Linked DNA regions of Homo sapiens. The protein of the gene in region 4 interacts with the protein of the main gene of each other region in a pairwise test. Each region holds a gene or a part of one and is shown on either strand. Other genes may lie near its edges. The genes, in order: PKIB, WNK1, RNF144A and E2F3.

Region 1 (7,600 bases), about 100 Mb from region 4:
GAAATCTTTGCTGCAACTAAAATAGGGAAAATAATATAAAACAAAACATTTAGAGCTAAACAAAAATCAAAAAAAGGTATTTCAATTTTTAAAAATCCTAATTAAAAATTTACAAAACAGCATTTACTCAACATCTGCCTCCCTCAACATACTAATTAAAAAATTAAATAGGAACACGAGCAAACAAGGCACAAAAATCCATGAATGCAGCAGCCAGGCATAGTGTCACAAAGCCACTCAACCTCTTACCTCACCGCCTCAGGAGCTAGACATGTATAACCACTTTCATGCCTTGTGTGGAACTTCTTGATTCTACACAGATGCTTATGCAACAATATTCTCAAATATTTTGATACTAGCAGTAAACGATTGTCTAAGTTAAACCAAGCAACACAAATTCTGATCAATGGAAAGCTGAATTATTAGCCTATCTGTGTTAAGAAACCAAGAGAGAATTCTTAGTCTATAATGAGCTTTTCGGCTCTATATACTTCTGAGTCTGTGCTTCTTTAACTAGGTTCTCTTCTGAATACATTTGGGAATTCAAAAAAACACACACGACCACATGGTAAGTGAGAGGTCACGATATTGGATGTACATAGGAAGGCACCAGATTTAGGACAGAAGAAGGATGGGAGAAGATGACTGTACACCAATTACTAGAGTGTTCAGAACAGGAGGGGTTTGTTCAGGTGCTAAACCCTCAGCATTGATGATAGAAATGAGAAACGGTAGAGGATGGTATAGCCAGAGTGCTCAAAGGAGCGGAAGTGAGTATAAGAGGGTGGAAAAATATTGTACAGGTGGCATATGGGGGCATGAAGGGAATGTGCCCCCCTCTACTACTCTGAGATTATAAAATTGAAAATAATAAACAGTCTCCAATAGGAAGGGCTTAAGGAGAAGTAAGATACCCAGGGGAGAGTCAAGCTTCAGGGCTAAGGGAAAAGGTGGAAGTTAATAATATAGATTAATTTATTATTATTGAACAGTTGTTCCAGGTAGCATGATGGAATGGTTTTGAAGGAAGAATACAAAGGAGACATTGGGTCAAGGGGGAGGTAGCAAAACATATAACAAAGTTTCAACACAAAGAGAAAAAATGAGCAGGTGAATGATAAAATCAGAGACTTTGAAGCATTTGAAAATTAGCTGTTTTTCAGGACCAACAAAATTATATGTTCCAAAACTGGTAATGTGGTAATTTAGGAAAGCTGGATGCTATGACAAGGGTTATAGAAATTTTTTTCCTTCTAGGGCTCAGGTTGTGAGTGGCAGATGTGGATGAAGGGGGAGCAGTCAAAGAGCCTGCAGTCATGTCTGCATTCTAACGCATTCTAACAGTGGGACAGCTATGAGAAAGGTAAGTTCCAAGGCAGGTGCGGGGGTGAGAAGGCACAGGATGCTATTCAAATCAATGGGGAGGGAATCCATTATAGGACAAATAGCTATAAAAAAAAAAGGCTAGCCATTAAATAATAATAAAATAAGGTAAGATCCCCACTTTATTTCTTACTAAAATAACTGCCAATGGATTAAAATTTTAAATAGAAACAAAAGATGTAAAAAGTACTAAAAGCAAATGTAGGTGAATACTTTTACAAGTGGGAAAGGCCATCTTAAACTTCACAAACTACGTGAGAATAGATTGATAACTTTGACATCCTTAAAAAATTAAGTATCCTACAAAGCAGTGCACCCTAAATCATTAATGGTAAAAAGAAAACATTTAAAATTTGTAAAATAGACATACAAAAGGTTGATATATTTATCAATAAAAAGCTCTTGCAAACAGATTGAAAAAACAGGCAAAGAATATAAAATAACAATTCATAAAAATAACTAAAAATATTCTGCCTCACTACCAATCAAAGAAATACAAATGTAGCTATATTTTCCCACTGATTTCTAAATTTCAAATTTTTGAAACTGTATTAGTATGTTAGTAAAAGTATTATTTTGAATGTAAACTGCACAGGCTTTCTGAAGATATTTTGTAAAATATATCAAAACTCTTTAAAAATTAACATCCTCTGATGCAGCAATTCTATGTCTAGAAATTTATTCAAAGGAATTAATCAAATAGGTGTATATGATGTATCAAAATTATGAACAGAGTTATCTACTATGCTATTGTTTATAAAACTGAATTTGGTAACTTTCTGTAGCGTCACCAGAAAATTAGTTAATGGAGCCATTAAAAAACTGTAATTTATACTAAGATGATTTATTAAGTGGGAAACAGGGAATATGATATGATAATTTTTTGTCTTTTAAAAAGTTATGTGTATGCAAAGAATAATTTTATAGTGATTACTTCTAGTTAGTGGACAAATCAAATATAAATAGACCTTTTTTTTCTTAAAACTATTCTGAAATTTCTGATTTTCATTGCAACGTATATTATCTCTAAAACATTATTAAAAAATGTTAAAGGTTAGGACTTGGTAGTATTTTAAGTGGAAAACATTACTTGCCCAGAAAGTAACATGTGGAATAATTCATTATTATGTAATGATAAAGGGTTGACAAAGAGATGAGACTGAAAGAAAGAAAAAGATGTTTGAGGGTATTTTCATGTCTGTGATTCTTGGTGAAGAATTTATAACAGTAAGCACATACTGCCCTTGAAAAGTTGAATTCTACTTTCAAATACTGCTAATAGCTAAAGTAATGAATTTTAATCGTTTGGGTATGTTTCTCTTTTATTTTGTTTTCTCATTTCTGAGTTAAATCAATGATTACCACAGGGTGCAGTGAAATTAGAATGTAGCCTTTCAGCAAACTAGAAAGTGTTTCCTATCCTTATGATCTGAAATTTTATCTAACCAAAAACTGTTTCATAGGATACTATACATTCTTTTAAGAAATGTTATTTTCTTTAATTTTCTGTTTCTACTCATTTTTACACTGGCAATAGTAATTTTAAGAGGAAGAAATGTAGGATACAAACTGTACACCATTGTTACATTAATGTAAAAAACATCCTTACAAATGTACAAAAACTGGAAGATACCCAATATTAAAACAATTATGGATGCATGTGAGAATTAAAATAAAAAACATCTTGATGTACTTAATAAAGTAAATCTTTTTAACAGTCCTTATGTAAAATAATTCTAGATATACTTAGACATAACCTAAACTGTTGTCATCAAACTTAATTCGTATTTCAGATGAGTCATATTAAAACAAAAACCTACAAAAAGAAAACAAATCAACTGACAATTAAGACCAATAATATTATTGAAAGAAAATATGAAAAGTTTTCATCAAGTTGGGATAAATTAAAATACTTTTTTAAAGAGTTGGTAAAAATAAATATCTATGAGTAAAAACAATGTTTTGTTTCCTCCAGTGTTTCACTGAATACTGAAAGGTTTATTTTTCCTTTCAAAGCATTCAAACCTAGAACCCAAAATATGAATTTCTCAGAGTTGAAACAAACTATGCTGGGTTTTACTTGAAGCTTAATATTCTTTGGCAAAAGTCCACAAGCATCTCAGGGAGCTGACCCAGATCTACCGTGCCAGAAAAGTATTCCTCACTTCCCCTAAAAACTTTCTCCACCACTCCCTGAGGGAAATAAATAAAAATGGCTCCCCTCAACCCCGTATTTCCACATGGTTGAATCCATAAGGGACAAATAAATGAAAAACCTGAAATGACTGTTTGATTTCAGAGGTGTAGAACTTTGACCACATTAGGTAGTGCATACGGTAGATGCAATACCCATTAACCTGTTGCCTCTTTGCAGCCATATTTACAAGGGATATTGAGAATGAGACCTGAGTGTGTGCTCAGCCACTGGCTAAGAAGGTCCAATATAAGTGAGTTAGCTGGGCATTTTTACTGAGCTCAAATTAGAAGGGTAGAAAGGCTGTAGATTTAAGAAATAAGCATCAATCAAACTTGGCTTTTAATCTCAGCTCTGCCACTTTCTATTAAATGACTTTGAATAGATACTCTCTTTGCCTACTCGTCTTAAAAAATAGAGCAGTAACACTGACTTCACAGATTGGAGAATAAACGAAATTAGTGAAAATGTGCTACAAATTACTATTTATTGATCAATCCACCAGACTCCAACCCTAGGGGTCTGGCAGATTGCTCAATAAACAGTAGTTTCCTTTCTCTTAGCATAACAGTTATTTCCATAGAAAGAAAAAAAAAAACTACTCACCCTTAAAAACATCTCAAGCTTCTACTACAGATTGAAAACATTGTATGTTCAAGGCCTCCACTTTCGTCCTTAACCCAATCCCCTTTATTGGAAAGCAGCTCCATAAATTGTCTTTTCTATACTTAACAGCCTCTCCCACACTAATGACTCCTAAAGATAGGACAAAGGCTTTCCTTTAAATATTAAACAAAAATTAATTGGACACTGTGTCGCGTGATTCCCTGCATACCGAACCGTCTCCTCCATCTTTCACCTATAATCCTGGGAGGACTACTGGACACTAGCTGATCCTATCTCCTTACTTTCCATTTCCTTCTCACGCAGCACAATCTGGCTTCAACCTTCCAATCATAAAGCCATTACTCTTGCTTTCTACTTGTCAAAACAAAAGTCCCTTCAACCCTTCTCCTATTATGTCCTCTTATGTCTATGACTTGTTGATCATGCCACACATTTTGAAGCTCTACATACCTTTGTCGCTATGACAATGCCCTTTCCAGCTTCTCCTCTTGGGCTCTGACTGGAACTCATTTCCCAGGATTCATTTTTCTCCCATTTTCCTTCTGATTCCATGTGCTTCCCATAGGAGATCTCATCATTATATTTACCTACTGCATGCCAATGTCAACTCAATCTGCATCTTCTGAGCTTGTTATACAACAGCTTCTTGGATATCTTCACCCCAATGTATCTTTTACTCACACCCACTGTATTAGTTTGATAGAGCTGCTGTAACAAATTACCACAAACTGAGTGACTTAACACAACAGAAATTTATTTTCACACAGTTCAGAATGGCAGCAATCCAATCAACTGTCAGTAGGGTTGGTTCATTTTTGTGGAATCAGAGGGGAAATCTGTTTTATGCCTCTCTCTTAGCTTCTAGTGGTTGCCAGCAAACCTTGGCATCCCTTGGTTTACAGTTTCATAACTTCAATCTCCCCCAGCATTGTCATGTTGTCTACCCTCTATGTGTCTTTCTCTTTGTGTCTCTTGCCTCTTCTTATAAGGAAACCAGTCATATTGGGTTAAGAGCCCACCTTACTCTAGTATGACCTCATCCTAGCTAATTGCATATGTAGTGATCCTATTTCCAAATAAGGTCATATCCTGAGATTCTAGGAAGGACGTGAATTTTGGGGAGACATTATCCAACTCAGTACACCCATGAAGTCGCCCCATTCTTAAACCTGCATGTTTGTAAATTGTGCCAGCTCTCACTTCAAGCCAAGAATCTGAGAGGCACTCTTCATTCTCATGTCTTCTTAACTTCATATCCCAACTACCATCAAACTCAATTATTTTCATCTCCTAATATTTCTAGAATCTGAATACTTTTCCTCATCCCTAATTCTGCTGCCCTGACTCATTCAGCATCTCTTGCTTGGCCTACTAGAGCAGTCCTTCCAGTAGCCTTCAGATGAAACCTCCCCAGGATTACAACAGTATATACATATGCACAGCTTCATGGCATGTTAGAAAGACATATTTAAAAATTTTTTTTTTCTTTTCACTACTGCAAAAAGTTCTACTACTTCACTACAATACACAGAATTATCATAGACACCCTTCTTCAAGGATGATGGAACTGAAAAGAAGAGTGGTTTCTGTGAAGTCCTGGCGTTTATAAATTTTGGCTTGATAGACTTTTTGCAAACCCTTGGAGTGTAACAAAATCCACCATACCTATAATCTGGCTTTTCATTAGATTTCAAGGCCTTTTTGGGAAAAGTGAGAAAAGTAGGGCTTATTTCAGCATTTTAAAATTTAATATTATACCTGGCTCCAGAAGCTCCATGGTAGAGGTATTTATTTTCATTTTAAAATATAAAATAAACTAATGTAATACACTAATGTAATTGCATGAGTTGTAAGCCCTCTTTACACACACATGCACATACACATACACACACACTGATTTTAAGATTTTATGATTTTAAGAATTTTAAGAATGGTGTTTTCTTCTTCTGAGATGTATTAGCTCAATCCATAAAATTTAATCTAGATATAAATTATTTTGTGACCATTAAAATATAAGCATGCTTGAGAAGACTACCTAATTATTTCCTGTCTTCCATGGTTTTATTCCTGAAGCTATCACACTGGACTTCAGTTCTCCCTTTACTTTATCCAAAAAAAAAGAAAGCCTACAGTTTACTTACTCCCACACCCCCATGGGGATGCTTACTCCCACACCCCCACGGGGATAAGAATACTTTCAACAGCATAGCCAATAAGAGTGCTTAGAAGAAAGCAGAGACTGCAGGAAGGGAGAGTCTGGGAGGTACAGGAAGGAATCCAGCTCCATTCATATTGTCTGTAGATGCTTCTGTTGCTGCTTCTTCAATTACATTAAAACTATCTTGGCTACAGACCACATTGTCTTAAAGAATCTCCATTTCCTTGGCCCTCTTTCCAATCTGAGAAATCCTACTTCTAACAGATCCAGGATTCTAGGTGAGAATACCTCTTCCCGTTCAGGAAATTATGCAAATCTAGATTGTTTTATTTTTATCTAAACATCTCTGAACTCTCTTCTCCAACCAAGCACCCAACTCTTGGGCAATGTCACATTTTTACAACTAGGAGTGACTGAAGAACACAAATCCACTCTGCTCTGGGCACATAATACTGCTATTTGCCACTTGCTAGAATAAAAAGTGTACCTCAGTTCAGTAAAAAGTAGCATATCCATTTGATTTCTCAAAATCAACTGTAATTCTTTTTTTTTTTTTTTTTTTTTGATGGAGTCTCACTCTGTCACCAGGCTGGAGTGCAGTGGTGCCATCTCAGCTCACTGCAACCTCTGCCTCCTGGGTTCAAGCGATACTCCTACCTCGGCCTCCCAAATAGCTGGGACTACAGGTGTGCACCACCACACCCAGCTAATTTTTGTATTTTTAGAGAGACGGGGTTTCACCATGTTGGCTAGGATGGTCTCTACCTCTTGACCTTGTGATCCGCCCACCTCAGCCTCCCAAAGTGCTGGGATTACAGGCATGAGCCACCACGCAGGGCCAAAACCAGTTGTACTTCTAATAAAAATAAAAAATAGTAGCTGTCTTTGATTTTATGGGGATGTTCAAGTGCTTAACCTAGATTATTTCCATGTAATGTCACTACCTGGTAATGACTTTTTTAAAGTACATATAACATATGAAAATGTCTGAAACTAACAGGATTTAGAGGAACATGTACTAATGGGGGAAGTTTTAAAACAGGAAAACCAGAGCCCTGGTCTAATATGTGATTTTTGTATATGGAAATCACTTACTCTTGGGCCTTAGATCCCTAAATCTACTAATAGAATATGCTTAATTATTATTTAAAATAATTATATGGAATCATGATTAACAATGCTTATCACAAGACATATAGTTCACAAGACGTATAGTTTATTTTTGATGTTGAGGAAAG
Region 2 (8,418 bases), on a different chromosome or scaffold from region 4:
CAAAGTGCTGGGATTACAGGCGTGAGCCACCGTGCCTGGCCCAGACTAAGTTTTTTGAATATGACTGACCAAAATGAACAGTTTTCGTTTGACGAGGTTTTTTTTTTTTAAAGATCTGTCACCTTTTCAATTCTAAAATACTATAAAATTAATGAGTAGTTTTAATTTCACACTACCTTAGAAGTTCTACATCATTAACTGTAAAAGTTAAGAAATGATTATGTTTGTAAAGAACTTCTTAGTTTTTAAGTTTACTTCCACATGCTGTGTTAATTTCACATTTGATATGGCCTTAGTTATTTGGAACCTGACATTCAAAGGGTTACGTGTTAACATATTAGTTCATGGATAAAATAAGTTCCAAGATCATTCAGTTATTTTCATATCCTGTATCAGGCTGGTCTATATTCTTGGCAAGATTACTATATCAATAATGGCAATTTTTATGCATGCATAATGTGGCTGACTTCCTTCAGCATAAACCTGCTCCTACTAATAACCTATGTTCACCTATGCCCAATCAGGGCAATATTTAAGCAAGCTGCTTCAGTAAGTCAAGCAACAAGTAGCCCAAACTCAGCTGTTTAAACCTAGAATGTACTAGTCAACCGGAATGACACACCATTATTTACACCACTAGAGGTTAAAAAAGGAAGTGCTGCGACTCCTTCGGACTCTTGGGAAAGTTCAGCTTAAAGATATTTTATAAGATTAAAACAATGATGATGACATTACGACTCTCAAAGCACTTACACAATTTTGCATGGGCTCCTATACTATTCGCTGTATAGTGAATGGGCTGAAAGACATTAGTTTAATGAACGTCAGAGCAATGCTGCTACTGTAAGGCTTAAGCATCATTAGGTAGAACAACATCAAACATCCAAAAGGGGCAGAGAAGAGTCTTTTTTTAATAATTATTTTATACTAAATGCCTGTGCAACCATCAAGCAAAATACATCCAAAGGTACAAGGTTGTTCTCATTTAAAAAGAACAGCCTGATCTCAGGAATGAAAACACGCTTCTACACCCAGACGCAGCTCATCACTGCAGAGCCTTTGATGAGATTGAAATGCACAGAAGAAGAAGCATCTGTACTTTCAACTTCCCCACTCATTCCAAGTTTCCTGCCAGACTCTAAACCAGGAGACAATTCGTTTGTACTAAGATGACCTTCACCACCGCTGCCCGGTAGCAAATCCCTCTGGCTACCAATAATTCTTATCCTATCCCAACACCTAGGCACATGCTCCACATTCTCCTAATTTCAGCCCCTTTCAAAAGTTGGCCTCCCCGTCCCACTCGGAGTCCAACAGAGAATGCCAAGTGAAGGGTGAACTCGATCAACTGGCTTCGCCGAGCCAAATTTGGGATCCAAAGGACCGTCAAATAAAGTAGGTGGGGCTTTACCTGCAGTTCACACCAGGCGACTTCCACGGTGGTTTCAGTGTCCAGACCTTTGTAGACCGTCTTAAAGGAGCCTCTGCCGATTTCGATGTCAAACTTGAGAAAGCGGCCATCGTTAGACATTCCCACGGCCTTGGTCTCCAGCTCTTCGATATCATCCTGCTGCTGGCTCCGTTCCTCCTGTGGCTCCTTGGCGCTGCCGCCGCCGCTGCCACTTCTCGCCGGCGGCGGCTCCTCTTTGCTCCCCACAAGGCTAGGCTGGGACACTGGGCGGTCTTTGCTGGTACTGCTGGGGACAGTCGAGGGGGCAGGGCCCGCGACGGCCTGTTCCCCAGGGGCGGCAGCGGCTGGAGGCTGCTGGGCTACCTGGGAAGTGGCGGTGGCGGTCACGGTCTCTTCCCGGTGGGGCTCCGGTGGAGCACTCTGCGGGACAGCCGCGGGGATGCTGGGCTGGGGCAGGGAAAGAGGAAGGCCGGGAAGCTCCAGTGCAGTGGCATTGGAGTCACAGATGACGCTCCGGCGGAAGAAGCGGTGCTCAGTGGTGGTAGTGGTCGCGGCCGCCCCACGGCTGTCCTTGTCCATAGTGTGGCGGCGGCGCCTGTACTCCTCGGTCCTGCCGGTCACAGCGTCGGCGGCCGCGGCTCCCAGTTTCTCCCCCACGGAGGAATCGGAGCTGGAGCCATTCTTGGGGGCAGGAGCCGGCGGCGAGAGGAACAGGGAACCGGGAGTGCTGCTCTGCTTCTCTGCGGCGCCGCCAGACATGGTCGGTTCGCTGGAGAGAGGCGAGCGGGCTCGGATTCGTGAACGAAAAGGGCGTGAAGGGCCGAGCCGCCCGCGCAGAGGTCTGCAGGGAACCGCGGCCGGGCGGGTTCGCGCCGACCCGGACGACGCCTCACTCAGCACCGACAAGCCGCAACGAGGGACAGGCGGACCGCTGGGCCCAGCTGCGGCGGGGGCTGGCACCGAGGCTGCTGCGGCTCACGAGGAGGGCTCGAAGGCGGGCGATTCGGGAGCTGAGCCACGGGGGTTAGCGCCGCACGGTCCGCATCCATCCTGCGGCGAGCGGCGGCCGGGCGGGCGGTGGCAGCAGAGGCGCCGCAGTCATGAGGGGAGGGCCAGGGGCCGGCACCGAGTCGAGGCGGATGCGGCGGACGCGGCTCCCACTGCCGCCGCTCGCCGAGCTGGGCGGGCTAGGCCCAGAGGGCGGCGGCACCGCGAGCACGGGACCAGGTCCGACGCCCGGGCGGTGGCGGCCCCGGGGCAGAGGAGTGGGAGGGGCCGAGGCGGGCGAGGGAAGGCCGCGGCCCGGCTCCCGGTCACTCGGGCGGCCGCCTCCTCCCACACGCGCCCCCAGCGATGGGGACCGGCCTCACAGGTCGCCCATCGCCCAGAGGCGAAGGGCCGGAGCCTCGGAGCCTCGGCGCCTGAGGAGCGGGCCCCCCCTTCCCCGAGGCCTCCCCGCCCGCCCCAGGCCTGGCAAACCCGTCTCCTCCCGGGCCGGTGCCGGGGGCTGACGGAGGAGGGAACGGCGGGGAGGGGAGGGCCGCTCACCGCGGGGCCCGAGCTCCGCTGCTTCTCTGAGGCAAGAGGAGAGGAGACCTAGAGGACTGGGTGAGGGGGAACAGGGAGAGAAAAGAGCAGCCACCCCCACCAGGCGCCTTCTGTCACCGAAGATGGGGGTGCGGAGTGGCCGAGAGAGGAGCCGCGTCCACCCGGGAAACTCTCCGCGCTAAATGGCGCCGGGAGTCTGAAGCCTCCACACAGCCCGCTCGGATCCCGCCCCCCGCCGCCCGGAGCAGCCCCACCCCCCAACTCGCTCCGGGGCTTTTGCGCAGGCGTGCTAGCCCCGAGGCACCCTGGGACTTATAGTTTACGGGTTGGCGGGGATGAACGGGACCTAGAAGAAAAGTGCCTACGACTTCCGTGATGCCTTGCGGTTGCTGTAGCCTAATGCCTCGTGGGAGTTGTAGTTTTCTTTGGAAACCGTCCCTTCTGAAAGGCTGATGGGAGCGTCATCACGGGTCGCTCAACCCCATCCCGAAGTCCGCGCGAGCTTAGGAAAATCATTATTTAGGGATTAATTGTGGAAGAAGGAAAGGAAGGAAAAAAAAAAAAAAAAGAAGAGGAACGAGCGGGCGGGGGGTGGGGGGGGGGATGGAAAGACTCCCATCATGCTCTGCTAAGCTAGAGAGCTCTTAGGGTTGCCATGCAATGAAAAATGATCTGTTGTTCATCTTTAATGGAGAGAGCCTCAGTAGTGTTGAGTGACTGCAGGGCTGTGAGGGTGGAAGGGAAGGGCAAAGCAGGATAACCGGAGCCTGAGCTCTGAGTCGGAGGAGGGGAAAAGAAACTTTGTGAAGATTGTGCATGAAATTAATATTGATTAAACGGATTGGAGGAGGAGACACGGAGGATTACCTTCCATCCTCCTCCCCTCATCAATTAAGGCCACATTCTCAGCTCCCGGCCGAGACGGATATTCTGGCTCTCAAAAAAGGGCTGCCTTACTGAAATCGGGGATCCTAGTGAACTCTATCTTTGCTTTGTCTGAAAAATAATAAAAGGGGGGTTGGGGGAGCGGTGGATTCAAGAAAAGATAAGGTCTACGGATCTATGGGTCTTTGACCACACTTGGGGGGCTGGGCTGACTTCTGCCTTTGTAGTTGGTTGAAACTTATTTTCCACCTTTCTTCTGCTGGTGGCTTCGTGAAACAACACCCCCTCTTTCTCTAGAGCTCCTGAATGTCCACATGCAATGTCTACAAAGGCTCTGGGCCCGGGAAATGTGGATCCATGCGGCTTGCCGCCATGGAATGTTTTTCTTGAAAGCATCCTTGTCTGCCTGGACCCCTGTGCTCTTCGCAACTACTCAAGATGTGGAGGGGACGAGCACCAGGGGGCACCAGACCGAGTAGGAAGCCGGACTCGGGAGCAGACTGCAGTTTAAAAGCCTCAGTCCAACCGGTGGAGAGCGGGAAGCGCTGAAAACGTACGCAACCGCATCAGAGCGTCCGGACGCGGCCGCCTCTCTTCAGCGCCCGCTGCGGAACAAGCTCGAAAGCGCGCGTCGGGGCCGAGGACCACGCTGCGAGCGAGCAGCTAGCAAGGAACTCGGCAGGAGGTTCCTTAGCACAGTTATCGGATGAGCTCCACCTACAGAAGTCTTGCCCTGCAGTTCATGTTAATTCATCTGATACGTAAAATACTTAACCCTATTTTTCTTTTCTTTCTTTTTTTGTTGTTTATCACAAGCTACACTTTCAAGTTTACAAAAATGTTTTAAACCAATGATCGTTAGGTTTCATGAAGCTGACAGGTTACGAACATTTTAAAATGCCGATTCAGCAGGGACAACTAGAGTACTAAAATATTAGTGTTCCATTGCTTTAGAAAATGTATCTTTCATTCGTTTGCTATTGGTAATGGTAAATAATCTCATTATGGCAAATGGAATTAAGAGTGTTTTTCTAACCGTAAACCTAATGTAAGCAAGGGAAGAAATGGCTGTAAAATACATTTTTATTGTACTTTTGAGTAAAATAAAACTTACCCAATTGTTGCTTCACTAGGAAAAATAGTCTGATTTTAAACATAAGGCAGCTAATTACAAATTGGCAAGTTAAAAGAAGATCAGTAAATCACAATGTTCCCTTTTGGCACCATGAAAAAATTAGGATATTTTTGTGTGAGTGGTTGTTAAAGGATTTTATTATTGCCTGTTCCTGTTTACTGAGCCCTGAAACTTTGGCCACACTGCATTGGACACAAGTCCCTTGATAATCACCATGCCCTATCAACATGTCTTTTCAACCAGGAACAACTAAATTCATTGTAAGTAATTTAATTAACTGTTGACTTAAAACCACACTTGCCTAGGAGACAGCTTTTCCCACTTGTGTAATATTAGCTTTACAATGAAAACAGATACAATTTTAAGTTGAATATAATCTTATTATGTACAATGATTAGATTTAAAGGTTATATTATTTAGTGTGCGTATTTTACTAACAAACACTTTTTTGCTCAGTTTTTGTTTTGTTTTGTTTTGTTTTGAGAGAGGCTCACTCTGTCGCCCAGGCTGCAGTACAGTGGCTTGATCCCAGCTCACTCAGTTCTTTTTAATGCTTACCAACCTACCTCCAAGTAAATGGTATTTTCTGTTACTCATTACTATAATTCCTAATAGTACTTTTCCTTTCTCTGTCACTTCAATTATCCAGTAAAGAATCAACCTCTCTATGTTCCATATAAAACATCAAGTGACTGTAAACAGAGATAACAAAGAACCCAGGATACAATGAATGCACTAAGCTCAGAGGTTTGACTTCCTTACATTTGGTTCCACAAGAAGAATACAAGTATGTTATTCTGTCTCACCATGTCTCTATTCTCTCTAGTTCTTGTTCATGTTCTCACATTGATTGATTCATGTTTCTTTCTATTCCCTTCCATTCACATTTTTTTGTTTACATGGTTTCTGCCATTGGTAACTAGCTAGCAATGAAAGTCAGAGACACCTTTGATTTAGACAGTGGCTGAAATATCCTAAACACACAAAATCTACCTTACTTTGAATGTGGCAAAATATTGATACATAAAGTTGCTTCTTGAAGTGTAGGGGAAAAATTGTCCCACCTTAAGAGCATTTCTCTTTTTTTTTTTTTGTCTCCTTTCCCTCATTTTCCCATGCTCCTTTGTCTTGCCTATGGGTAATTTTTATTTTACCTCTTTGTCGTCTGGAACCCTGTCATCTGGAAGTAGGAAGTGAGAATCAGGCAGATAAACAATGAAGAATAGTTTTTTAAGAACTTTATATTATAAATGAAATAAAGGGGGTGGGATTTTCCCTATATCAAAGTATATTATAAAACCATAAAATTAAATCTATATGGTATTGAGATAAGCATAGGCAATGGAACAGAAGAGAGAGTACAGAAACAGTCTCATGTATGTATGGGAATTTCATATAGAAAATGGCATTTGAAGTCAGTAGGGCAAAATAATAAACAGTGCTTGGACAATTAGTTATTCATTTGAAAAATAAATGAGGTCAGTGTTTACTTCAGACTGTTCACAAAATTAATTTCCACATAAATTGAAGAACCAAACTTTTAAAAAATATCTCTAAATAATTTTTTAAATGTAGGAGAACATAGGGTACTAAAGGGCTTCAAAGAGCAATCCAAGAGCCACAAAGGAAAATATTTGACAATATCAAAATTGATAATCTATTCAACAAAACACAAGTGACAAACTGCCAGAAAAACTCTGGAGACTGTATAACAAAAGATTAATATCCAAAAGATATGGGGGGAAAAAAACCCTCTTAAATCACTGAGAAAAAGGCAAACCACTGTATAGAAAAGGAGGATATGAAAAGATAATTTACAAAGCAGTAAATGCCATGGTGGCTTACACCTGTAATCCCAGCACTTTGGGAGCCTAAGTGGGAGGATCACTTGAGGTCAGGAGCTCGAGACCAGCCTGGCCAACATGGTGAAACCCCGTCTTTACTAAAAATACAAAAATTAGCCGGGCATGGTGGTGCGCGCCTATAGTCCCAGCTACCCGGGAGGCTGAGGCACGAGAATCGCTTCAACTCAGGAGGTGGAAGTTGCAGTGAGCCGAGATTGAACCATTGCACTGCAGCCTGGGCAACAAAGCGAGACTGTGTCTCAGAAAAAAAAATAAAATAAAATAAAGCAGTAAATGCAAATAACAAAAATAGACATGAAAAAGATGCTGAAACTCAGTAACTAGCAAAATGCAGATTAAAATATAATATTTTCTCTCATAAAATTGAAAAATTATCTTTTTTTGAGACAGAGTCTCATTCTGTTGTCCAGGCTGGAGTGCAGTGGTGCAATCACAGCTCACTGTAGCCTCATACTTCTAGGCTCAAGCCTGCCGAGTAGCTGGGACCACAGGTGTGCACCACCATGTCCAGCTAATTTTTAAATTTTTTGTAGAGATGAAGTCTCACTATGTTACCTTGGCTGGTCTGAACTCCCTGGACTTAAGCAGTTCTCCTATTTCAGCCTCCCAACGTGCTAGGATTGCAGGCGTGAACCACCACGCCTGGTCTAAATTGAGCAAAAAAAAAAAAAAAAAAAAATTTTTTTTTTTTTTTTTTAGTGTCCCCATCATGGCAATTTGCAAAATTTTTAGGGATTCATAATATCAAGTGTTGGCGAGGATGTGGAGAAACGTGCTGTTAATGATACGGTAAATTGGTACAAGCTTTTTTGAGGGCAATTTGTTAGCAATTATTAAAACGTACAATGTGCATCGTCTTTTTCTTTCTTTTTGGTACCTACCTTGGAAAAATACTTGCACGTGTTTCCTAAGAAATATCTATAAGAGGGTGGGTGCTCACGCCTGTAATCCCAACACTTTGGGAGGCCGAGGCGGGTGGATCACAAGGTCAGGAGTTCGAGACCAGTCTGGCCAACATGGTGAAACCCCGTCTCTACTAAAAATACAAAAAATTAGCCGGGTGTGGTGGTGTGTGCCTGTAACCTCAGCTACTCGGGAGGCTAAGGCAGGAGGATCACGTGAACCGGGAGGTGGAGGTTGCAATGAGCCGAGATTGTGCCACTACACTCCAGCCCAGGCAACAGTGCAAGACTCCATCTCAAAAAAAAAAAAAAAGGAAAGAAATATCTATAAGAATATTCACTATAGCCAGGTGCAGTGGTGTGTGCTTGTAGTCCTAGCTACTTGGGAGGTTGAGGTGGGAGGATTACTTGAGCCCAGGAGGTCGAGGCTGCAGTGAGCTATGATCACGCCACTGCACTCCAATCTGAGTGACAGAGCAAGACCCTGTCTCTAAAAAACAAAAACAAAACATAAAACCTTTCACTATGGCTTTATTTGTAACAAAAAATCCAAATGATCTGCATGTTCATCAATAAGAAAATAGCTAAACTATGGTATTTCCAGTTTGGGGTACACCATGCAACAGTAGGAAAAAAGGAGGGAAATATGTATGTGGTGCCATAACTATTAAG
Region 3 (7,600 bases), on a different chromosome or scaffold from region 4:
ATTTTCTGGTAGCCACATTTTATTAAAAAGCATGGGAAATTAGTTTCAGTAATATATTTTATTTAACCCAATATGACCAAAATATAATCATCTCAACATACAATCTATATAACAATTATGACTGGGTACTCTACATTCTGTTTTTCACACCCAAAACCCACTGACAGCACAGCTCAATTGGGACTGGCCAGAATTTAAGGGCTCCAGGGCCCCGCAGGGCCAGTAGCTACCGCAGAGGACAGCCTGGCTCAGGTCCTCGCTTCCCCTCCACCTGTCTGCATTCTGTTTTTTCTGCTACACAAGGAAGAAGTCCTGCCTGCCTCCAGAAAGCAGCCCTTATCTGCCAGGCCAGCAGGACACAGCTCAAGGCCCTGATCAGTCGCCTAGGCTGGCACAGTCAAGCTGGTCCTCCCGAGGAAAGGCTGGATCCACTGCACATGGCCAGGGACAGAAAAAAAACAAGGTCACTGTCAAGGAAGCAGAGCTGCAGGCCAAAGGGAGAGAGTCCCAGGAGTGATTAAAGTATTAACAGATAAGAAATGCTTCCCTCGGCCAATCAGCAGGCAGAAATTGTGCATTCCTTTCAGGAGGAGCTGCAAACACATCCTTCTGAGTCTTACTCAGGCTTTCACAGTTGACAGCACAGTACCTGGCCTAGAGTGAAGGCTACACAAATATTTATTCGGCATATGAAAAACCCTGCACCTAAAATCCTGTGCTATTTCACAAACAGGAGACGTGAAGAGCAGGCAATCTCACGGGACCAACAGGGCTTACTATGTGTTCTGGTTGTTTTTACTACAGTGAAACTGGACTCAACAAAGTACCGCAAGTTTAAGAGATGAATCCCTGCCATGTGGACTCCAGAACGGTAAACTCTCCCTTGTTTCAGAAAGGGCACCCCCGCTCTGCCCCATCCCTTCCTCTCTGCAAGTCCTCACCTTCACTATATAGTCCTCAATGTGTCTTTGAATCCCTGGTACCAAGTAGTTTTTGCCAAATGATGGATTAAAGAACAAAAGTAAATAAACAACAACAACAATAGAAATAAAGAGTAAGATATTCATGAATATTATAGTGAATGAATGTGGCTGTTTCTGGACTCAAATGTCTTTGAAGGGAAAAGACGCAGATTCATTTCAACAAATATTTATTGAGCGCCTCCTATGAGAAGCCTGTGTGCCGAGTGCTAGAGGGGTACAAAGACAACCAGGACAGGACTGGGATTCCCAGCCCACACTGTACCCACACCGAACCTATTGATGGAACACACAGGTGTGCATAGCCCCACACCTGCAACCTTGAAGCCGCATGCATATGGCTCTGGGCCTAATCCATATGGGCTCCTGCTTTGCCAGGAAGAGCAGGTAAGAGAGGGAAAGGCAGTTTTATCAAGGCCTAGCACGGCCAACCCCTGCACGGGGCAGTTCTCTCGCATGTGTTACCAGTCCAGTCCTCCAGGACCACCTCCCAGGCAGACCCTCATTTTCTCTCCTTCTCTTTCTCCAGGAGCCGGCCACGCAGCCCAGCTCTGGCACTGGGCCCTGAACAGAGTCAGCCACCAAACTTTTGGAAAAGCTTGTCGCTTCTTGACAAAAACGGACAGATGCAGCTGACACCAACTCCCCCTCCTCTCTCACTGCCTTCAACACAGATGTGGCGCAGCTGTGGCCAGCCCTTTTGCATGATGGGGCAAAGGAAAACATGCTGAGGATGGCAAAGTGAAAGAAGAGAGAACCTGGCTCTCAGTAACATCCCAAGCCGCTGCACCAGCACCTGGAAGCAAGCACCTACCTTCAGTGCCTTGCTATTAAGGAAACAGAAAGCTGTTTAAGTCCTTGTTAGTAAGTGCTATGTTGCTGGCCAAACATATGCTAACACATCCAAACACAAACAAACACTATGCCTGATACTGGTACATATATATGTGTTGTGTGTATTGATGCATGTGTATGTGTGTGTTTGTGTGTGTGCGCACACGTGTGTGTTGAATCATGTCTCCCCCAAAGGATATATTGAACTCCTAACCCCTGATGCTTATGAATGTGACCTTATTAGGGTGTTTGCAGATGCAATCAAGAGAAGATGGGATCAACAGGCTTGGCCCTAATCCAACATGACTGAAGTCCTTGTGAGAAGAGGTGCACCCCCAGCGCAGAGACAGAGAAGACAGCCACATGAAGATGCAGGCAGATATCAGAGAGAATCATCTACCTGTATTCTGCGCCTTGAACCTGCCCTTTACCTGCGGCTTGCCCACATCAGATCCTGAGGTTCCTGCCTGCTTCTGTCCTTGGATAAATGGGAACTCTTACTCTCATATCTGGCCACTTTCACCCCTACACATGATAACAAGAAGAAAGTAAAGAGAGCAACTGGGGGGGAAGGGGGAGGACAGAAGCTGAAACACAGATGGTTTCTTAGTGTCTCACAATGGATTAAATAAAGAGATTTCTTTTTCTTTTTCCTAATACACCTGGCCCTATCCACCACTCTGCCGGCCACCAATGACCAGACTGGCTCAGTTTTCAGGGCCTTGGATAGTGCTTCACTGAGACAAGAAGAAGAGAGAAGGGCCTGCAATCTGTGAGTGAGATCTGTGAGGATACAGCCAGCCCCATCCCATCCACACCAGGGATTACAATCACTTACTTCTGCCAAGTGGTTAGAAGGAAATGCAAGTGTTTTAGTCAAGAGAGTTCAGATCTAAGGTGCCAACTCAGAAAGTCTCCTGGAAGCTCTTTGGATGCCACTGCCCTAGGCTACAAAGCTCCAGTGCATACGCTATCAAAATTCGCCGTGTGGCAATCGAGGTCGCCAGAAAACTCACAGAAGGACCCAGGTGCTTCCTGACATTCTCCATCCGTCAAAGAGCCAGCCCCAAGGTCTCTGGAAGCCCACACCCTTCCCAAAGCAAAGGCTCCCTTGGAGCACACAGCCTGTGTTATGCTTGTGAGTGCACAACTGGCACCACAGACCATGGGCACATAAGTTACTCAGAAAACGGATTCCTCAGAGACAGAGAATACAGTGAACACAAAGGATGGCTCCTCACACACTTCACAGCACACTTAGCAGTTGCACTTCTTCAACTCTTATACAGGAAGAACCACAAGAATCTCTGGCCCTGGGGCCCTACCTGGCAAGTTCCTCCAAGGCACTGGCGAAAGCATCCTAGTGTTTCATGAGAGGCCCGCACTCGGAAGGGAGATGGAGGCCCCTCCTCTGCTGCTCCTGAGCGTTCATCCAACAGCCCTGTCTCCTCAGCATCCTCCAGAACAAACCCTGCCCGTCCTGGGTCTTTGCCCTGCTCTGGGACAGCTCAGAGCACCCCCTTCTCTACACTCCCCAGCTCTCCAAAGCCCACCTATGCTGAGTCCCATTTCCACAATCGCTTCCTCACCAGACTCCCAGGACATGCGCTCGGATGGGCACATTCAGGCGCTTGGTTCTAACCATTCCACATTATGCATCTCCCTTCACATCGCAGGCAAAGGCCACGTCCTATGCTTCCCGTGCATCGCACAGTGCCTCGGGCCCCCCAGCAACACGGCCACGGAAGTCTCGCCAGCTGTTACTCTGGATCTCACTTACATGGTGTCTACACAACCACGGTACCCAGGATTCTCTCTCTGCATTCCAGGCCACCAGGCTACATTCTACCATCCTCACTCTTAAACCCAAGCAAATATTCCCATCTGACTTCTCAGGGTCTTAAGGTGTATTGTTCTGTGACCTGACCTAAAGAGAGAACCTGGTTTACTCGGATCATGATGGAATACAGAATTTACACTCGAATTCCATTTCTTCATTCATAATCTGTTCCAGGCTTCCCTCTTGAACCAGGTTTCTCTATCTTGTATTCAATCACTTAACAAAAATCCATTCAGAAAGAGCATGATAGGCACTGAGAGAATGTAAAAATGAGTAAGTTCCTACCTGTGCAGAGATTATAATTTAGCAGAGGAAATAGGATGGTTACATAAATCAGTAAAATTGGATTAGAGAGTTTTAAACGCAACTACAGGTTCTGAAAAAAAAAAATAAAGTTGCTATGGAAGCACCTGGTGGGGAAAACATTTGTGCCTGGGAAGACGAGAGAGAACGCAGGCACCTGGGCCTGCAGGACCTGGCCTGGACCCTGGAGCTTTAACTCCGTCCCAGTTCTGCTCCGTGCGGCTCCATCTTCTCATCTGTGCAATGCCAGTGTCAGAGGAGAGCATCTCCACAGTCACCCACATTGGCAATTTTACAGCTGGAAGGAAAGGCAGCATTTGTGATGAGCCTTCAAGAATCATTAGGAAGCTGGCACATGGATGGTGGGAGAGCGTCCCAGGGCACACGTCAGCAGCTGCTGAGATCAGCCCTGGAAAGACAGGCTGGAGCCAAGGCAGGAAGAGGCTTGAACACTCAACCCGCGGGCTCACAGGTAACTTGGGCAACGAGCGTGGCTGGAGGTCTCTGAATAGAGAAGTGTTAACAGACACCGACAGGCTTAACACACAAGCTTCCCAAGAAAGTTAACAAAAAAAAAGGTGTGCATTGATTCCAGCTTCAGCGCATTTCCGTTTCAGTGAATGTTTGAACTTGAGGAGAGAGTCCCTTCATGCAGACATCTGAGTATTTCTGTGGAGGGAACACTTCCTACCACCCAAATGGGGACATGAGGAAGCGCTGCTGCCTCCCTGGCAGGCCCCCTTTCATTCAGAGGATATGGGCAGACCTCACTGAAGAGGCTGTAGCAGGGGTCGAGCAGGTGGTGCAGACATCAGAGAGTTCACTCTAGAATGCTGGAAACTTGCAGAGGAGGCTGCAGACCAGTCAGCGACGGAGGGTGCACAGAGGGGACTCCTGCAACCCACCAGATCACCAGCCAGGTGACACACCCTGGAGTCTGAGACACACTATGAAAAAGCAGGAGGCCGGGCGCGGTGGCTCACGCCTGTAATCCCAGCACCTTGGGAGGCCGAGGCGGGCGGATCATGAGATCAGGAGATCAACACCATCCTGGCTAACACAGTGAAACCCCGTCTCTACTAAAAATACAAACAATTATCAGGGTGTGGCGGCGGGCGCCTGTAGTCCCAGCTACTCGGGAGGCTGAGGCAGGAGAATGGCGTGAACCCAGGAGGCGGAGCTTGCAGTGAGCTGAGATTGCACCACTACACTCCAGCCTGGGCGACAAAGTGAGACTCCATCTCAAAAAAAAAAAAAAAAGAAAAACAAGAAAAACCGGGCGGGTCCCCTCTGCATGGCTCGCAGGAGGCAGTCAAGCTTGCTGCATTCTGCACTCCTCTGCCCTCCAGAGGACCTTAACACACCATGCATCAACAATAAACATGCCCTGCTCCACAGAATTACCTGAAAGCAGTTCTTGGGAAACCTAAAAAGTATTCCCAGGAACACAATGTTGTAAGAGATGTGCACAGTCCTTGGACAGACACAAAAGCCCGTTCAATCAATAAAGAGACTCTGACAACATCCACTTTCAGGACTTGGAACCCTTCCCTTTTGCTCCCACAGGCTCCCATAGGCAGAAGCCCCCAGAGCCTGCACGGCCATATCCAGCACATGCACGGGGCTAATGTCTAGTTCGCTGGCCCCAGTCAACTATGGGTCACTCGGAAGACATGGGAGCAAGGTGACTGACTGTAAAAACAATGGTCGCTATGGGTGGTTCCCCTGATCTTTCCCTGAACTCACTCTCCCACCAGGTAGAACTGGAGGAGGAGGAAAGGAAATGGAGGGAACACAGATAGGGAAAGACGCTCCAAAACAAAACAGTGAAAAGGAAAATGCACTGATGGGACCTTCCAGGAGATGCCAGTAATGAAAGCGGCTGTATTACACACGGAAATCTGGGTCCAAACAGCTCAGAGACCACCAGCCACCCTAAAAAGGCCAATGGTAAGGCAGCTGGGGAGCTCGGCCCTGTGTGCTGGTCCTAAGTTCCCTGTCCACCCCAGGCTGTTTCTTGCTGTTCCCAGGCCCAGAATGTGACCTTGTCCCTCTTAATTTGCCTAGCTAACTCTGACCCGTCCCTCCCATCCCAGACCAACAGCATCGCCCCAGCAGGCAGCCTCCCTGCCACCCGGGGCTGATCCAGGCACCCTCCTGTGGGTCCCACTGCTCTCTGCCCTGACCTCCCATGCTGCCCTGACCCCACGGTTCAATCTGTTAATGTTTGAGCTTCCCGCTCCCTAGACTACAGCCTCCTCAAGGTCATGGGATCTATCCTTATCTGCAGGCCTCTGGGTTCAAAGCCAGGCTTCAAAATTGACGACGTGTGTGCGATGTTGGACAACATCCCTGCTCTCTGCTTCACTCTGCTCCTCTGTCAGCTAGGGATAGCAACATACGCCTGTGCTGCAGGGCTGTGTGAGAACTGCATCCACGATGCAAGCAAAGCCCTGAAGATCAGGCAAATCCATAATGAGTATCAACCACCTCCTCCACCTCTAGTGCCAAACACACCTGAGATGATAAAATACTGGTTGACACACTGCATGCCACCAAGGAGCTTGCTTTTGTCTGGAACACTGCATCCAGCTTATAAGCCTGCTCCTTAGAGAAAGCCTGCCTTCCAGTTCTACGGAACATCCAGGAAGTAAGCACCTTTAAATTCAGGTCTTGGGTTATTTGTGGAGTGAAGCAAGGTGAAGGCTCCTATCAGCAATGAGCCACCCTCCTCAAAGCTTCATTTCTCACCATTTCACTTTGGAAAAAATCCACTCTTCTGAAAGTTAAAATATTTTCTCTTGGGAAACAAACAAACCCTTACGAATGGTTGTACTTGGTGAGTCGTCCTGTAATATTTATTCTCCTGGAAAAAAAATATGATCCAACAGTACATTTTTATTTCTGGATCTTGGAAAATATTTACACCAACACCTCAGTTTTATCCTCAAAAAACTGGAGCCATCCAGGGAGGTTAAGACGCTGGCCCAGGGCCAGACAGCTGGGTCAGGAAATTGTAATAAGCTCTATCCTTCAGCCCCACTACCCAGCAGGTATGTGAGCAGTGGCTTCAATTTAATTTCTTCATCTAACTAAGAAAGGGTATTCATGTGTTTCAGTAATGCAGAAACAACGGAGAAAGGAGGCTAGTCTTGGAAATGATTACTTCTTAAAGAAAAGAAAGGCACCTCCAACTTCATTCTTCGATCTCAATGTTAGAAAATTCCCCAGAGAAAACACGGAGAGTCCCTCTTCCTTAGAAGCACTCCATTCCATTCCCCGCCTCTGGGCTGCCTCTGAGATCCCACATCCTGTGAAGCCAGGGGTTCCTTGCTCTAAGAGAGTCTGAGGGCTCAATATCATCCTGAATGGTTCCAGACCACCCAACGTGCAGGGCAGCGAGCACGGCTTCATCCTCTTCTATTGCAAGTGAGGTATGGGAAAAAAGGGACAGCAGACAGAACCAGAAAAGCTGATGCCAGGGCTGGACCAGCCACAGCTTTTCATGTGGCCTGGGCTACCTGACCCCTCCTTTCCAAGCTACGAGGTTCCCATGGTTACAACAAGGGTTCATAGGCCAGGTGGGTGCTGGCCCACCTGGTTCTGTGATTGTCAGTCTCCAAGGGCAGGCTTCCTTCCCATC
Region 4 (7,600 bases):
AACGGGTTACCAAACTGTCAACAAAATTCCAAAATGTGCAAAAAAAGGTATGTATTCATCTTCCATCTGAATTAGTATCTTTTCAAAGCCCTCCTGTAACAGAATTATTCCTTCCAAAATGCTTTAATAATTCAATACTGTGCTTATAGTGGCTATTTAGATGCTCTAAAATTCACAAAATATATTACATATGTAATCATACGTGTGGCTGTATAAGTATCATGCTACCATCCCTGCTCTACAGACGAAATGGAGGCATTTAAGTCTTGCCTTAATTTACCCAGAAAGTGAGTTAATCTGCTATTAGAACCATGGATAAAGATATTCTGTAACTATGCAGTTGTACGTATACACATAGATAACCCATAAGCCATCATTTCCAGATTCTTATTAGAAACAAGCTGAAGACGTGTACACATCTGTCAGATACACACGTGGGTGCACACAGACATCTATGTAACAGATGAACAGCAGTCCACTTTCCAACTGCAGGGACCTCTTTAAGGATGCCGTTGCTGGATGCTCATCAAATATAAATCCTTTTATCTCTGACAGTATCTAAACAAAGTCTCTTTGTAAAGAGACTTCAAACTTCTGGCTTAGAAGCTGAGGAGGGAAGAGAGAATGAGAGAGAAGAAAACAGTAGGAGAGAAAAGAAAAGAACGTGTGGGCGTGGATGTGAAAGTGAGGAACTAAGAAACCAGGCAGTTTGAAACGACCCCCTCAGAGCCGGGGCATGGGGAGGACTCCTACTCACATCCATTGGACGTTGTTTTTAGACTTCTTCTTAATGAGGTGGATGCCTTCCAGAACGTTGGTGATATCATAAATCCTTCTCTTTTGCACTTTTAGCACTTCTGCTGCCTTGTTCAAATCCAATACCCCATCGGGTGACTGGCTCAGGAGCTGAATGAACTTCTTGGTGAGCAGACCAAGAGACGTATCATACCGCGTTTTTTCTGAGGGAGATTTTGGAGCTTAAAGAAAAACAAAAACCGAGCGGGTGGGGGATAGGGGGAAAGGTAAAGAAATGAAGGGTGTCTTTGCAGTCAAGCAAGCTCTCTTTCCCACTGCAGCCAAAGTATTAGTATCTGAAGCAAGGCTGTCGTTGCTGTTGGTGTTGGCAAGTCATAGAAAGCTATGAAAGTTTTTTATTAGAGCAGGAAGGGAAGGTAAAAATTCCAGGGTTTGATTAAAGCATTTCACCTTGAATTTCTCAAGAGTTTCTACCTTGACTTACACCATTCCCTGGCTCCAATGAAGAATTTACATATAGCGGGCGCTAAAAAATATCTGTCAAATGAATGAAAGAGTGCTGTGGCCTCAGGGGACCAGCACACACGAGGCCTACGGTGATGGAGCCAGGCTATGAGTCTCACTAGCACTGCAGGACAAGGTCTTAAACAGACCCATCTCAAATGGCCTTTCAGGCTCTGGTATCTGTGTGTGCGTGTATCACCTGTTCACCAATTTTCCAAACAATGCTTCATTTTGATAAATAATTACCTGGAAAAGTCTTCTGCCAAATCTCCCCATCTCTCTTAAAGGAAATTTCCTTACTTAATATTGTACTTGTTCCCCCATAGGTGCACAGGTCAAGGTTTTAATTTAGTGTCACACAATTTGTGGATTGCCTAATGCATGAACTAAAGGAAGAGAGAGAACAAAGTCTAATTTAGCCCTTATGTTAAATGCAAACACATACATAATGGGACTAGTTGGCTATTTCTAACCTACGTTTCTCTCTCTCCCACAAGAAACGGTAATAGTATTTGATAGAAAGAGAAACAGCCTGCAATTTATCGGGCTCAATCAATTCTTACGCTATCATATGCTGAGCTGGAGATTGAGGTCGGCACAGACACTGGTGACTCTGGCATAGTTCGTGGACATCCAGTTTGCCTCAGACTCTGAAGCAATGTCCATTAAGGGAAGTTAAAATTAAATTTGATATAGAATGGTGCCAAAAGTTCGTATTCCGAGTTGAAAAATGAAACTACATACAGTTAAAAGAAGTCTTCCCTTATGGTACCAGTGTGACTCTGTAGCCTTTCACTGGTTGTCTGCTGACATTGTATTTATTTTTTTGGATAAGCACAGAAAGAAATGAAAAAGAACAAAACATGCCAGAATTATTCACACCTTGGCATCCTTCCGGCCATAAGCTTTGAAACTTGGAAATGCCATACCAAGGAGAATAAGGAAAGAGATGAAAAGATCCTTACTTTTTGGACTATCTGGACTTCGTAGTGCAGCTCTTCCTTTGCCCTTGGGGGTTTTTAAACCATCTGAGAGGTACTGATGACCGCTTTCTCCTAGCTCCAGCCTTCGCTTTGCCTGTAATAAGAAAGTGCGATCTCTCGTCACCGGTCATATGGACAAGAACAAGAAGGGAGGCAGTTTGTGGGCTGGCCTGCCAAATGCTGCAGGCTCATGCCAGCTCTCACCCCTCTGCTCCACCCCACTCAGCATCTTGTCATTCCCTAGAGCCAGGATTCTAGCGTTGTAGGCTGGGTTGTCATGCACACTCTCTTCACCTGCCGTGATCATCCGTCCACACCCAGATGGACAAACACAGCGATCCTTCAGCATTAGGTTCAGGAGTCACTTTGTTCATTGATTCAACACATCATGTGCCTGGCATGGGGTTGGATGCTAAGAATATCACAGGCGCCGTGGGGCTTAAATTCCCTTTCCACAGTGAGTCTTTCCTGCCCATCTCCCATTCTCCGACCTGGGTTGGACCCCCTTCCTTGTGCTCCCCAAACACTCTGTGTTTATTTGTATCATGACACTTATTCGGTATTACTGTAAGACTTATCTGTTTCTCATTTCCTTTAAGGCAGGGACTGTTTCCCATTTATCTTTGTATACCCAGTGCTTGGCACAGAGCCTGGGTTTCTGTAGATTTTCAATCACTCTCTCTATATACTGTATATTCAATGAGAGAAAGGGTGATTGGATCGTAACACAACTAGTCACAGACTACAAACGGCCCTTCATCGGGAAAACAAATACTGCAAACATGCAATCTTGGGCTTCAACCACTATTACTTTCTCCATTTTCTTATCAAGCCTAGCAAATGAGAAGCCCTTATCTAAGTTTTTAATTTAACTCCAATTAAATTTTAAAATATCCACATAGCGTCTTCTAGGTACCTAGGCATTGGGCTTAGTAAGCAAGATAGATAAGGGGCTTCGAGTCCAAGAGAAAAGATAGATGGTTAAGCAGTTGTTAAGTACTAATTGTATGGGTATGACAGGTGTTTTAGAAAATAAATGGCACCAACTGGACACTCAGCACAAAAATATGTATTTAGGCTCATTTTCAGGCAGATTCTTCTAATGAGGAGATTTGCAGTTTCTTTTTTTTAAGACAGAGTCTTGCTCTGTCGCCCAGGCTGGAGTGGAGTGGCGCGATCTTGGCTCACTGCAACCTCTGCCTCTGAGTTCAAGTGATTCTCCTGCCTCAGCCCTCCCCAAGTAGCTGGGACTGCAGGTGCACGCCACCACTCCCAGCTAATTTTTGTATTTTTAGTAGAGACGGGGTTTCGCCATGTTGGCCAGGCTGGTCTCGAAGTCCTGATCTTTGGTGATCTGCCCACCTTGGCCTCCCAAAGTGATGGGATTACAGGCGTGAGCCACTGTACCCAGCCGAGAGTTGCAATTTCAAAACAACTCCCCGTGATGTGAAAACGTAAGTAATAACTTATCAGCGGAAGCTAGATATTCAGCCCCTCTATGGAAAGTTACCAGCTAACCCTGCACCGTCTACTACGATAGCCACTGGTTACTAGCTCATCCAAACTGACATGTGCTATAATTGTAAAATACACACTGAATTTCGAAGACTTAGTACAAAACAGGGTAAAATATCTCAACAATTTTAGTAGTGATCACATGTTAAATGAAATAAATAAAATACAACTGACCCTTGAACAACATGGGTTTGGACTGTCCGTTTCCACTGATTTTATTTTTTTAGAGACAGGGTCTTGCTCTGCCGCCCAGGCTGGAGTGCAGTGGTGTGATCTCAGCTCACTGCAACCTTGTCCTCCCAGGCTCAAGGAATCCTCCCATCTCAGCCTCCTGAGTAGATGGGACCACAGGTGCACACCATGATGTCTGGCTAATTTAAATTTTTTTTTTTTTGGGTAGAGATGGGGCCTCTGTATGTTGCCCAGGCTGGTGTTGAACTCTTGGGCTCAAGTGATCCTCCTGCCTCATCCTCCCAAAGTGCTGGGATTACAGCCGTGAGCCACTGCACCCGGCCATGAGTGTGTCCACCTATATGTGGGTTTTCTTCTTCCTCTGTCATCCCTGAGACAGTAAGACCAACCCCTCCTCTTTTCTTTCACCACACCTTCCTCAATGTGAAGATAACGAGGATGAATTTTATGATGATCCACTTCCAGTAATGAATAGTAAATCTATTTTCTCTTCCTTATGATTTTTTTTTCATCCAGCTGCTTTATATGCCCATATGCCTTCTACACTTTGAACCCTGGACCAAGTTCAGCTGCTAGGAAACGCAAATTCCAGAGCATACCTAAGATGCATTGGATCAGAAACTCTGGGAATGGGGCTGAGCAATCTAACAGGCCTTCCAGGTGATTCTGATACACCTTAAAGTTGGAGAAACCTGGCTTTAGATCATAAGGGAAAAGAGTAAGACACTCAGGCAAAGCCCAGCTCTGCCCAGCACGGCCTATTTCACACACCCTCACCTCTAGTCCTGCTTGGCTGATGAGGGAAATCTATCCTGTGGATTCCACTTTCATTCATTCCAAACTTTCTTTTATTGATAACATTTCCTCTCTAACTTCATTGTAAGAATACAGTATATAATACATATACCATATGAAATGTGTTAATGACTGTTTATGTTATTGGTAAGGCTTCTAGTCAACAGTAGGCTATTAGGGCTGGGTGCATGGATCACACCTGTAATCCCAGCTACTCAGGAGGATGACTTGAGGCCAAGAGTTCAAGACCAGCCTGATCAACGTAGCAAGACCCCCCATCACTAAAATAATAATGAAAACCCCAAACAACAGGCTATTAGTTAAGTTTAGGGGAGTCAAAAGATCTATCTAAATTTTTGACTGTGTCAGGGCACCTCTAACCCCAATGTTGTTAATGGGTCAGATGTAGCATTAAAATTATTTCATCTGTTTCTTTATATATATATTTTACGATGTGGCTTGCCTCAGTGGCACACCTTATCTTTCTACTGCAGTGCTAAGTTAAACATCATTCTAATGGCTCCGGAAGGACAATCTGCTTGCTGGACTTCATCTTCCCCTCCCAGCCATTCTGTCAAGTCCTTGTGTGGGCCTGCTGTGGTTGGTCCAGCAAACATTCACTCTTTATCAGGCAGAAGCTCCCTGTTTGTTCCTTGGGGAGCCATCCCTTTCCTGGTCTAAGCGCATCTGTGCACACAGGTGATCCAGGCCTGGCTAATCATTGTGGCCCATCCTGCCCTCCCCGCCCCCACCGCGAACAGGTTGAATGGCTTATGACCAAGGCTGGAGGAGCAAAGGCTAACCCCAGGAATGTTTCTGGAACTATCTGGCAAGAAGCAGGTATGTCTTTCCAGTAAGGTTGGTAAGTGAGGAGCCTAAAGCTGCCTGAGAATGGGGCCTTCCCAGGGGAAAGCAGAGTGGAGAGAAGGAGAGAGAGGGGTCTGAGACCACCACTCAAAACTCTGGCTCTGGTCATGCCCTGGGGGCAACTGTTGGTCTTTCCCAGACTTTCCAGTTACATTAGCCAATAAACTCTCCTTTTTGCTTAAAGCATTTTTTTTTTTTGAGACCCGGAGTCTCGCTCTGTCACCCAGGCTGGAGTGCAGTGGTGCAATTTCAACTTATTGCAAGCTCCGCCTCCCGGGTTCATGCCATTCTCCTGCCTCAGCCTCTCGAGTAGCTGGGACTACAGGCGTCCGCCACCACGCCCGGCTAATTTTTTGTAGTTTTAGTAGAGACGGGGTTTCACCATGTTAGCCAGGATCTTCTTGATCTCCTGACCTCGTGATCCGCCTTCCTCGGCCTCCTCAAGTGCTGGGATTACAGGCGTGAGCCACCGTGCCCAGCTGCTTCAAGTGTTTTGAGTCGGGAACCTAGAATTGTGCTGTTGCCAGTGACAGCTTATGGAACTGGCTGAGTCAAGATGGCTATGGTGTGACAGGGAGTTGGCAGGCCTTGTTAGAGAGTGGCAGAGTGTGTTGGTCACTTCTTGTGACCGCCAGGAAGATACTACAGATAGAGAGAAACTTCATCTGAGGCTGGCCCGCCTCAAAGAAAACAGCTTTGCTATGGAGGCCTTCTCTACAGAAAGCAATCTAAGGAGACATAGAGCTGTATTCTCTGCCCAAATTAAAGTCAACAAATGGGCTGGGCACAATGGCTCACGCCTGTAATCCCAGCACTTTGAGAGGCCGAGGTAGGCAGATCACCTGAGGTCAGGAGTTTGAGACCAGCCTGGTGAAACCCTAACTCTACTAAAAATACAAAAAGTAGCCCAGCATGGTAGCATGCACCTGTAGTTCCAGTTACTTGGGAGGCTGGGGCATGAGAATTGCTTGAACCTGGGAGGTGGAGGTTGGTGCCTCCGCAATCCAGCCTGGATGACAGAGAAAGACTCTTGTCTCAAAAAATGAAAATAAAGTGAACAGAAAGAAGGCAAACTTGGAAAAGAGTCTGGGACCCAGAACTCCTAGGGACCTAGGGCCGTGCCTCAGCAGTAAAGAACCACCCACTGGTCAGCAGGCTGGGGGCATACTAGTTTTATCTCTCCCTCCCAGGCTGCTGTTTCAGACTGCCATGAGGCAAAGGCCTATGGAACCATTAAACTGTAGGTTAGGGAAATTTCCATGTCTGCTGCTAAGTGACTGAGACTTAACTTCGAAAGACCGGGACTAGTCTTCATGTGTAACTCTCGTTACTAAGCACCAAACCATAAATTGACCAAATTTGAATGCTAGATGGACAAGCTACTAAAATTGCAAGGCACTTTTATTGCGAAAGAATCACTAAGTCTAGAAAGTGAAGGTCCATGATGTTGAACCTCTAAGGAAATCAATCACTAGGTCCAAAAGCCACGCCAGAAATAAGTGAGGTGTGAAGAAGGGGCAGCCCCAGAATTCCTCCCAGGAGGTGGAACTTGGGGTGGACTTATAGGCTCTACAAACTGCTGTCCCTGTGGAGGACATGACAAGAAGCAGGAGGTGAGCACTTTATGTCATTTCCCCTTTTCAGAAGGGAGGTTCCCGTTGGGTTATCCTGTTATTTTTCCTCCCCTGTTGAGTGAACAGGGAGGGCGGAACTGGATTTGTGGGGACCACATATTACCTGTTTGGTCTCAGATCTGAACATGGGTGCAATAATTAGAATCTCTTGAAAAAGGGCTAAGAATTTTGATATTTGATGGAGCAGCATTATTTTAATGCTTAACTTAGCAAATTCAAGCACACATGCCTGGTAAAACAAAAAACTATATGACAGGATTTAAATAGTGCGGGTGAGCTCTGTCTACACCACCCTGCCCTGGGCTGAGCACCAGGGTAGATGGAAATCTCTTCTCTTGGTCATCTCAATTTTTG

The links.
Region 1: the proteins of E2F3 (region 4) and PKIB interact in a two-hybrid assay, tested with the Homo sapiens proteins (one study listed by BioGRID).
Region 2: the proteins of E2F3 (region 4) and WNK1 interact in a two-hybrid assay, tested with the Homo sapiens proteins (one study listed by BioGRID).
Region 3: the proteins of E2F3 (region 4) and RNF144A interact in a two-hybrid assay, tested with the Homo sapiens proteins (one study listed by BioGRID).

What each region holds. Positions count from the first base shown.
Region 1 is NC_000006.12:122,613,286-122,620,885, reverse strand, and holds part of PKIB (cAMP-dependent protein kinase inhibitor beta), read right to left. Parts: intron 1-7,600. UniProt on the Homo sapiens protein: Extremely potent competitive inhibitor of cAMP-dependent protein kinase activity, this protein interacts with the catalytic subunit of the enzyme after the cAMP-induced dissociation of its regulatory chains.
Region 2 is NC_000012.12:747,318-755,735, reverse strand, and holds the start of WNK1 (serine/threonine-protein kinase WNK1), read right to left. Parts: upstream 3,158-8,418; 5' UTR 2,171-3,157; coding exon 1,412-2,170; intron 1-1,411. UniProt on the Homo sapiens protein: Serine/threonine-protein kinase component of the WNK1-SPAK/OSR1 kinase cascade, which acts as a key regulator of blood pressure and regulatory volume increase by promoting ion influx.
Region 3 is NC_000002.12:6,920,244-6,927,843, reverse strand, and holds part of RNF144A (E3 ubiquitin-protein ligase RNF144A), read right to left. Parts: intron 1-7,600. UniProt on the Homo sapiens protein: E3 ubiquitin-protein ligase which accepts ubiquitin from E2 ubiquitin-conjugating enzymes UBE2L3 and UBE2L6 in the form of a thioester and then directly transfers the ubiquitin to targeted substrates.
Region 4 is NC_000006.12:20,474,583-20,482,182, reverse strand, and holds part of E2F3 (transcription factor E2F3), read right to left. Parts: intron 2,338-7,600; coding exon 2,226-2,337; intron 978-2,225; coding exon 758-977; intron 1-757.